Regions from separate parts of the Homo sapiens genome. Here regions 1 and 2 are each linked to region 3. The links come from fine-mapping of genetic effects on plasma protein levels. A gene starts in region 3. Each other region holds a variant in brackets. All regions are shown on one strand. Distances are between the middles of the regions.

The links. PIP is the posterior inclusion probability: the model's chance that the variant is causal. Protein levels are from the aptamer-based SomaScan assay of Sun 2018.
Region 1: its variant is fine-mapped to the plasma level of the KLK14 protein (Sun 2018, PIP 0.95).
Region 2: its variant is fine-mapped to the plasma level of the KLK14 protein (Sun 2018, PIP 0.95).

Annotation. Positions count from the first base shown.
Region 1 is chr19:51,091,901-51,094,646 of GRCh38, reverse strand. No RefSeq gene overlaps it. Among named protein-coding and RNA genes, the nearest start is that of KLK14, 10 kb to the right of the region's middle. The variant G/A (reference allele first, on the strand shown) is at 1,430.
Region 2 is chr19:51,070,108-51,072,868 of GRCh38, reverse strand. No RefSeq gene overlaps it. Among named protein-coding and RNA genes, the nearest start is that of KLK13, 6.4 kb to the right of the region's middle. The variant T/AAAAAAAAAAAT (reference allele first, on the strand shown) is at 1,272.
Region 3 is chr19:51,081,234-51,083,994 of GRCh38, reverse strand. It overlaps KLK14 (kallikrein related peptidase 14), which reads left to right and starts at 1,108. Exons shown (of 6, transcript NM_001369775.2): 1 at 1,108-1,273; 2 at 1,359-1,420; 3 at 2,292-2,463. The coding sequence starts at 1,381.

The DNA.
Region 1 (2,746 bases), 11 kb before region 3:
CCCTCAAGGGAGATACAAAAAAAAAAAAAAAAAAACGAGAAAAATAAGTCAAATATATGGTATGTTGGATCGTGATAATCGCTTCTATTTAAGTAGGAGGGACGGGGAGGCTTCAAGGAGGAGATATTCAGGGAAAGGTGCAGGGTGAGGCAGAGAGCACAGGGGTGGAGGGTCTCTGGGAAAGTGTTCCTGGCAGGAAACAGCAAGTGCAGACTCTGAGATTGAGGGAAAAAGGAGAGGGGGCAGGTGGAGGAGAGAGGTGAGAGGGAGAAGCGACTTTGGCTTGGCTTTGTTTCTAAGCACTGCAGAAGCCATGGAGGATATTTGAGTAAAGGAGGGATACTGATCACCCCTTTATTCATGCAGCAAACATTTCCTGACGCCTCCTTGGAGCTGGCGGGCCCTGCGCAGGGCGGTGGGGCAATGCAGCTGAGTCAGCCCCAGTCCCTGCCCTCAATGGGCTCCCTGTCTGCCAGCGGAGGCGGGCAGGGATACTGGCAAGTCAAGATCCGGAGGGATATGTGCCACCGTGGGGCTTAGGAGGGACACAGGGGAGGCCTGAGGTGGGGCTTCTAACTCAGTGCGGTGCGTCATGGAACGCTTCCTGAAAGAGGTAATGTGTAAACCGGGAGCTGGAGATGAGTAAGAATGAGCACAGGAAAGGGCGAGATGGGGACAAATGTGCAAGGCAGAGAGAATGGCAGGCACAGAGGCCTGCAGGCATGGGAGCCCCAAGTCCCTGCGAGGCTTTGCCGCTCCTCCCTGTGCAGGATGGTGGAGGGGGTGGCCAGCCCTCCATAAAGCACTGGAATTCTTCTGGCCGGGATGGGGCACTTAGGGAGGGCGAGAGCAGACAGGGCCGGCTCTGGGTGTCAGAAAGATCCCTCTGGGGCCGTGTCCAGGAAGGACTGGAGTAGGGAAGACTCAGCCAGGAGGCCAGGGAGAGGGCTGGGACAAAGGTCTGGGAATGGATTTGGTAGCCAAAACTGGGGCAGTGGCGAGGGTGTCAGGATGGTGAGAATGGATGTGAGGGCCATTTAAGAAGTCCTCACCAAGAGCTGGGAACCCTATTCAATGCTGAGGGTGTGTTTCCTAAGGGCGAAGAGCCCTACGTGTTCTCAAAGGCAGTGTAAATCCAAGAGACATTTCTTCCAGGCAGACTGAACAAAAACAAACAAAAAAGATGTTCGCCACATATGCCGGTGGCCATGGTAAACCCGGGAAATTCTTTTGCTGGAGGAGGAAGGCTTGGTAAATATGGAGGGCAGGGGCAGGGAGCTGCTGAGGCTGGAGGCCCAAGTGAACACAGACGCTCCTTTAGCTAAACAGGAGGCCCCAGTCTTCATGGGGACAAAGGGACTTTTGCTGTGGCCTGTGGCCTTGGCAAACACAGCCTCTACATAAACACAACTAAAGGTGGCAGTGGGGC[G/A]AAACGCCAGCGTCTCATCCCATCAGGTCAGAAGCATTCTCCCCACTGCAGGGATTTGGAGCCCAGTCTCAGAAAGACCGGCTTCCCCATCTTCCACCTGTGTGCTCTCCTGGGGCTGGGTCATTGGAGATCGCTGTCAGGTCTGAGGAGGTGGAGACATTGAGTGCAGAGATTCTGGAGAAAAGCAGAGATTCTAAACAGGCTCTGAGATGATCTTCCTCCTTCAGCCTGTTATAGAGCCCCTGCCACGTGCCGGGTGGCAGACGTGGCAACAGGGATTCAGCAACAAGATAGACAAGGTCCCTGCCCTCGTGAAGCCTCAGTTCTAATAAGAGATGCCTCTTCCTTCCACAAAGGTTTACTGAACACCTCCTATGTGCCAGGGCATAGAGGCAGATAAAGACAGTGAAAATCCCTGCACTGTCAGGGTTGCCATTCAAGTCGTGGGAGACAGAGTAGACGTAAGAGTAAGAAAGTAAATAAATAAAACATGAGAGACATCCGACAGTAATAAACACCATAGAGAGGAAGAAAACCAGCAATAATAATAAACAAGGAAGCAAACCGATAGAGCAATTACAGATTGAGATAAGGTGTAGGAAGGAAACCCACAAGAAGCTGAGATGGAAACTGGAAGGGAATGCCAGCTCTGGAGAAGGTGGTCAGGAGATGACCTTTAAGCTGAAATCTGAAGGAAGATCACAGGCAGAGTGGTGGGAAGCATGTCCCAGGCAGAGGGAACAGCAAAGGCCAAGCCTCTAAGTTGGGAAGGCGCCTCCCAATGTTGAGAAGATGGAAGAAGTTCCAGGGGGCAGAGGCACAGTACACAATGCAGTGATGAGGTTGGAAGGATGGACAGAAGCCAGACACCAAGTGCCTTGGAGGCATTTGCGTTTTATTATAATTGCAGTGGGCACTCACAGATGGGTTTTAAGCAGGTTTTAACATGATATTGTTTTAAGAAGACGTTGGCTGCTGAGTAGAGAATGGACTTAGCAGGGCGAGGGAGGGAGGGGTTGGGGGTCGAGGCTGGAAGCAGCGAGACCAGTTTGGATGCTCTTGCACCTGTGTAGGTGGGAGATAAGGGTGACTTGGAAGAGGGCGACTGAGAGGAGACAAGTGGGTGGATTCTTTACTGTGTACTTTGGAGCTAAGTGACAGGAACTGCCAAAATGGGAGGTGAGAGCGAGGGAGGAATCAGAGACGCTCCCAAGCGTCTTTGACCCAAGCACCTGGGGAGAGGATACTAACTTAGAGGAGACACAGGGGGAAGGTTGGGGTACACCGTGGAGCTTAAACAGAAATAAATGGGAGGGG
Region 2 (2,761 bases), 11 kb after region 3:
TTTGCAACTCAAAGTTCCAGCTATGGTGGTTGAACATTATATTTTATTGATTTAAAGACACATTCTTTTCATATTTTTCACATCTCTGAAATTAGGAAGCATCTTACATCTTAATTCAGCATGATGTCTTACACCTCATAATTTAATTGGCAACTTCTTTTTCTTTCTGAGTGGTCTACAAAATAAAGTGCAATATAATCAACAGTATTTTACATTCAATTAAATAGTGTGTGAAGGAAGGTAGGTGTAGGTGAGGGGTCAGGTTGTATTATTAAATACGTCATCTGATTTCGTCAAATCATCTTGTAACAATCTATCTGCATCACTATTTGCTCATCTAGTTCACTGCTTCTAACTGCCCCAGAGTCTTCTAGACATATGTTGTCCAATATGGTAGCCGTTAGCCACAACTGGTGTGGCCATTTAATTTTTGATTAAAATTAATTAAAATTAGATGCACCTTAAAATTCCATTCCTTAGTCATACTCACAACATTTCAATAACCGTACGTGGCTAGCGGCTGCCATATTGACAGCACGGATATATTATAGATAGAATTATTTGCATCTCATCACTGGAAGTCCCATTGAACAGCACTACTCTGGTTTTTGCCCTTGCTTCACATAGCGTGGTGCAGAAAATAGCAATTCTGAATCACTTATTAGAACTGGAGTCTTAGATCTCACCCAGACCAACTGAATCGGAATCTGCGTTATATATAACAAGATTGCCAGGGCACTCAGTGCATGTTAGGATTTGAGAAGCGCCGCTGCATAGTACACATCCACCATGTTTAGTAACCCAGTCCTTCAGTGATGGACACCTAGGTTCCCTTCACTTTGAGCGTGCCACTTATGTATCTATACAAGACTCCTCTTGACCATTCACACAGGAGTGGGACCAAGGGGCCTAAAGGCCTATTCTTAATCAATTTCACCGAATACTGGCAAGTTTTTGTCTAACAAAGAAGGGTTCGACCAGGTGCGGTGGCTCACGCCTGTAATCCCAGCACTTTGGGAGGCCAAGGCGGGCAGATCATGAGGTCAGGAGACCGAGACCATCCTGGCTAACACGGTGAAACCCCGTCTCTACTAAAAATACAAAAAAATTAGCCGGGTGTGGTGGTGGGTGCCTGTAGTCCCAGCTACTCAGGAGGCTGAGGCAGGAGAATTGCTTGAACCCGGGAGGCTGAGGTTGCAGTGAGCCGAGATCGTGCCACTGCACTCCAGCCTGGGTGACAGAGAGAGACTCCATCTCAAAAAAAAAAAAAA[T/AAAAAAAAAAAT]TAGGTTTCTTCCCTCTCCACACCTTCAACAATATCCATATTTGTCACTGACGGTTCCTACGGAAGTGAATGAAGGGGGACGAATGCAGAAATAAAGACAAGAGATCTGTTTTGAAAGAATGTGTCAGGGAGCTCCTTGCTTCTGGTGAGCAAAGGCAGCCTTGAGCTTCTACAGCCCTTCATTTATATTAGGTAGAAAGAGCAGGGAGGGAGAGGTAACGGTTGATCAGCTGCTTGATTAATCACAGGTACATATAATTGTTTTCTTTGTACAACAGGCTTCAGATGTTCTTTCGGATAATCACAAGGAACACTGTGCTTGAGGCGTGACTGCCCTCAGCACCTTTTCTGGTGGCAGATGCAGTTGTCAGTTTTCCAACATCCTGCTTTCATGAGAACAGTTTTCTGTTTGCTCATATAGCCTCGAGTGGTAAACTGAGTTGGTCACAACCCCCATTTTCTCAGCCTGTAACACATATTTATTCATTCAGTAAATATTTAATGCCCATAGTTCATTTATTTATTCAGCAAATATTCATTAAATCTGATTGTGTACCAGGTATTGTTCTAGGAGCAAAATATTTGAACAATTCTTTCCTCAGGGAGTTCACATTCTAGAGGGGAGGCAGACAGAAACAAATGAATAAGTAAAACATTACGCCTGACAGATGGGAATAAATGCCATAGAAGAAAATAAAGCAGAGTAACAGGATAGAGAATGTCAGAGGAGAGTTGCAATTTTATGTTGGGTGGTTGTACAACCCAGCAGGCTTGGACTGTCCAAACCCTGCACACTACAGTGAAACTTTTGGCCCTTGCCTGGCTTCTGGGAGATAACCTCTATGCTCTTGGAATATCTTGCTAAGTAACAGTGTCTTTGTCTCTCTGGGGCTTGAGCCATGCCAGATAATCTATAACAATGTGACTTATGGTGGGGACCTAGGGACATGTTGTATCAATTTGACCTCTAGAGGATCTGGAGCTAAGGTCAGCCACACAAACAGGCAGTCATGTCGATATGACTAACCCCCAATATAAACCCTGGACATCAAGGCTTGGGTGAGCTTCCCTGGCTGGCGATGCTCCAGCGTGTTGTCATACATTATTGCTGGGGGAATTATGCACTGTCCACAAACTCCACTGGGAGAAGACAGGTGGAGGCTCATGCCTGGTCTCTCCCAGACTCTGCCCGATGCACCTTTTTTCTTTGCTCATTTTAATCTGTGTCCTTTCACTGTAAGAAACCAAAACTATAACAACTTTTCTGAGTTTTATGAGTCCTTCTAGTGAATCACTGAAACTGTCCTGGAGACTCCCAAGAACAGTGGTCAAGAGGGCCTTCATGAAGAAGATGGCAAGAATACAGGGGACCATGCAGACATCTGGGGGAAGAGGGTTTCAGGCACAAAAGCCCTGAGATGGAAGCATGCCCAGCATTAGAGGGACAAGAGAAGAGAAGATCTTGGGCCTTATATGCCAACCAGAAGGAA
Region 3 (2,761 bases):
TAGGTGCCCATCCTTCCCGTCTCCCCTCTGCCATCGGCCTGCCTGTCCCATCCTCTTTCTCCCACCATGTCCCGTTCTCTTCCACGTCTCATGCCCGCACTGCCTTCATCATCATCGCTGTTGTTCTGTGTGTGTTTGTGGTGAGTGCCGCATGGTGGGGGCGTCTCGGCCTCTCTCCTCTCTCTCCACTGTTTTCTCTTTCTGTGTGTCTGTTTCCATTCTATCTCCACCTTCTTCCCTCCGTCTTTTGCTTTTCTATCTCCACTTCTCCACACCCCTCTCTCCCTGCGTCTCTGTGTCTCCCTCTTCCTCTGTCTTGTTTTTTTCCCACCGTCTGCCTCTTCTGTTCCCTGTCACATCCAACTTCCACCGGTTTCTCCAGCTCTCTCCTCAGTTCCTTCTCTCATGAGCACACCTGCCTCTGTGCTCGTATTCCTGGACTCCTCTCTCTCCACTGTCATATCTTCTCATTCATTTTCCCAGTCTCTCTCTGTCTCTTGCTCTCCCCCTCTCTGTCACTCTGTCTCTGTCTCTCTCTTTCTCTCTCTCTCTCTGTGTCTCTCTGTCTGGCTCTCTCTCTGTCTCTCTCTCCATCTCTCTCTCTCTCTCCCCCCCGTCACCCTGTCTCTGTCTCTCTCTGTCTGTGTGTCTCTCTGTCTTTCTCTCTCTCCATCTCTCTCTGTCTCTCTCTCTCTCTCTCTCTCTCTCCCTCTCTCCCTCCTCCCGTGACTCCCTCTCTCAGTCCATCTCTTCCTCCCTCTCTCAGCCCCTTCGTGCCCTTTCCTCTGACACTCCCCACCCTGGTTTCCTGACTCCACCACTAGATCCACCACCTCCAGCAACTGGGAACCCTCCCCTGCCCACCCTGCCCTGGGGTCCCCTCCCAGGATTCCTTCTAGATTATAGCATCTTCCCTGGGCGGGTTCTCATGAACAATTGTGGCTGCTTTTTTGGCCAGACAGGGGAGGGAGGGGATGGGATCAGGGAGTCCTGGAATGGGAACTAGGCAATAAAAAAAAAAAAATGTCAGAAGCAGGGCGGCGGGAGGTGGGGGCAGGGCCAGCTGTCCTTACCAGGGATAAAAGGCTTTGCCAGTGTGACTAGGAAGAGAGACACCTCCCCTCCTTCCTTCATCAAGACATCAAGGAGGGACCTGTGCCCTGCTCCACATCCTCCCACCTGCCGCCCGCAGAGCCTGCAGGCCCCGCCCCCCTCGTCTCTGGTCCCTACCTCTCTGCTGTGTCTTCATGTCCCTGAGGGTCTTGGGCTCTGGGTAAGTGCCCCTTGCTGTCTCTGCCTCTCAGCCCCCGGTTCTGTTGAAGGTTCCTTCTCTCTCACTTTTTCTCTGCATTTGACAGGACCTGGCCCTCAGCCCCTAAAATGTTCCTCCTGCTGACAGCACTTCAAGTCCTGGCTATAGGTAAGAGAACGGTTGGGTATGACACAAGGGGGTCCCCTGGAGACTCTGAGAAGAGATGGGGATGGGTCCTTGGGGCCCCTGGATGCTCATGGTGACCTCATAAGAAAGAGCAGGGAGTGGTTTGGGGGTCATGGTGGGGGAACGTGCTGGAGGCCTAAATTCCTAGTTGTGGAGGTGCTAGGGAATTGTGGGGCCGGGGAGAGAGGTGTTTATAAGGTCTGGTGCAAAATACATAAGGAATCTTAGGGAACTATTAGGTCCTGAGTGGGTCATAGCAGAAAGATCACGGGGCTCTACCTGACTGTGTTAGGAAAGAAACAATGTCAGAAAGATGTTTTGTTGTCAGAGGGAAGGTGGAGAAGGATGATGGGATGGCGGGATCGTGGCATGGGGTGGCGGGATCGTGGCATGGGTGTGTGAGGTGGATGGGGGCAAGTGTGGGGCAAGAGATGGCGGATCCTTGGGGTCCCACTGAGTGGGAACGTTGGGGAGGAGACAGGGAGGTCCTTGAATGTGTTGGGGAAGGACTCATTGGGGGGAAATGTGGCATATTTCGAGAAGTGATCACAGAAATTATGGGAGCATAGAGCTAAGGGTCGTAGATGTAGCAAGGCCCTGGATAAGGTGGCCACGGCACAAAATAAGAGATGCTACGGAGGTGACTTGGGAGGTGAGTCAGAAAGCTCTCCGTGCTGGGGCAATAACGGGGTCAATATTGGGCATGTCTCACCCTGGGTGGGACAGATAGAGGCGGGCAGTTTAGGGGTTAGACCAAAAGGAAGGGGATTTGTCAGTTTTGGAATCCTACAAACTTGTGGAGTGGAGAGTGTTTGCTCATCTACTTTCCCCACCCAATCCTGTCCACTCCTAGCCATGACACAGAGCCAAGAGGATGAGAACAAGATAATTGGTGGCCATACGTGCACCCGGAGCTCCCAGCCGTGGCAGGCGGCCCTGCTGGCGGGTCCCAGGCGCCGCTTCCTCTGCGGAGGCGCCCTGCTTTCAGGCCAGTGGGTCATCACTGCTGCTCACTGCGGCCGCCCGTAAGTGACCCCCTCCCCTGTCCCTGTACCTAGTGAATTCCAGAGTCTAAAGCCCTAGAGCTGAGCTGAGAACCTGGATCTCTGTATAGAACCCAATGTAGTGGCTGGCTCCTGGTTTGAGGTCTAGAGAAGAGCCTGGAACAAAAACACAGCTCGGGATGTGGGCTCCTCCATAAATCTCGAACTCAGCATAGGTTCTGAAAGCAGATGGGCAGCTTGGAACCCATGGACCTGCTGAGAACCGAACATCTGATCCAGTGATTCTTCCAGAGGCCACACATTACATCGAGACCAAGCT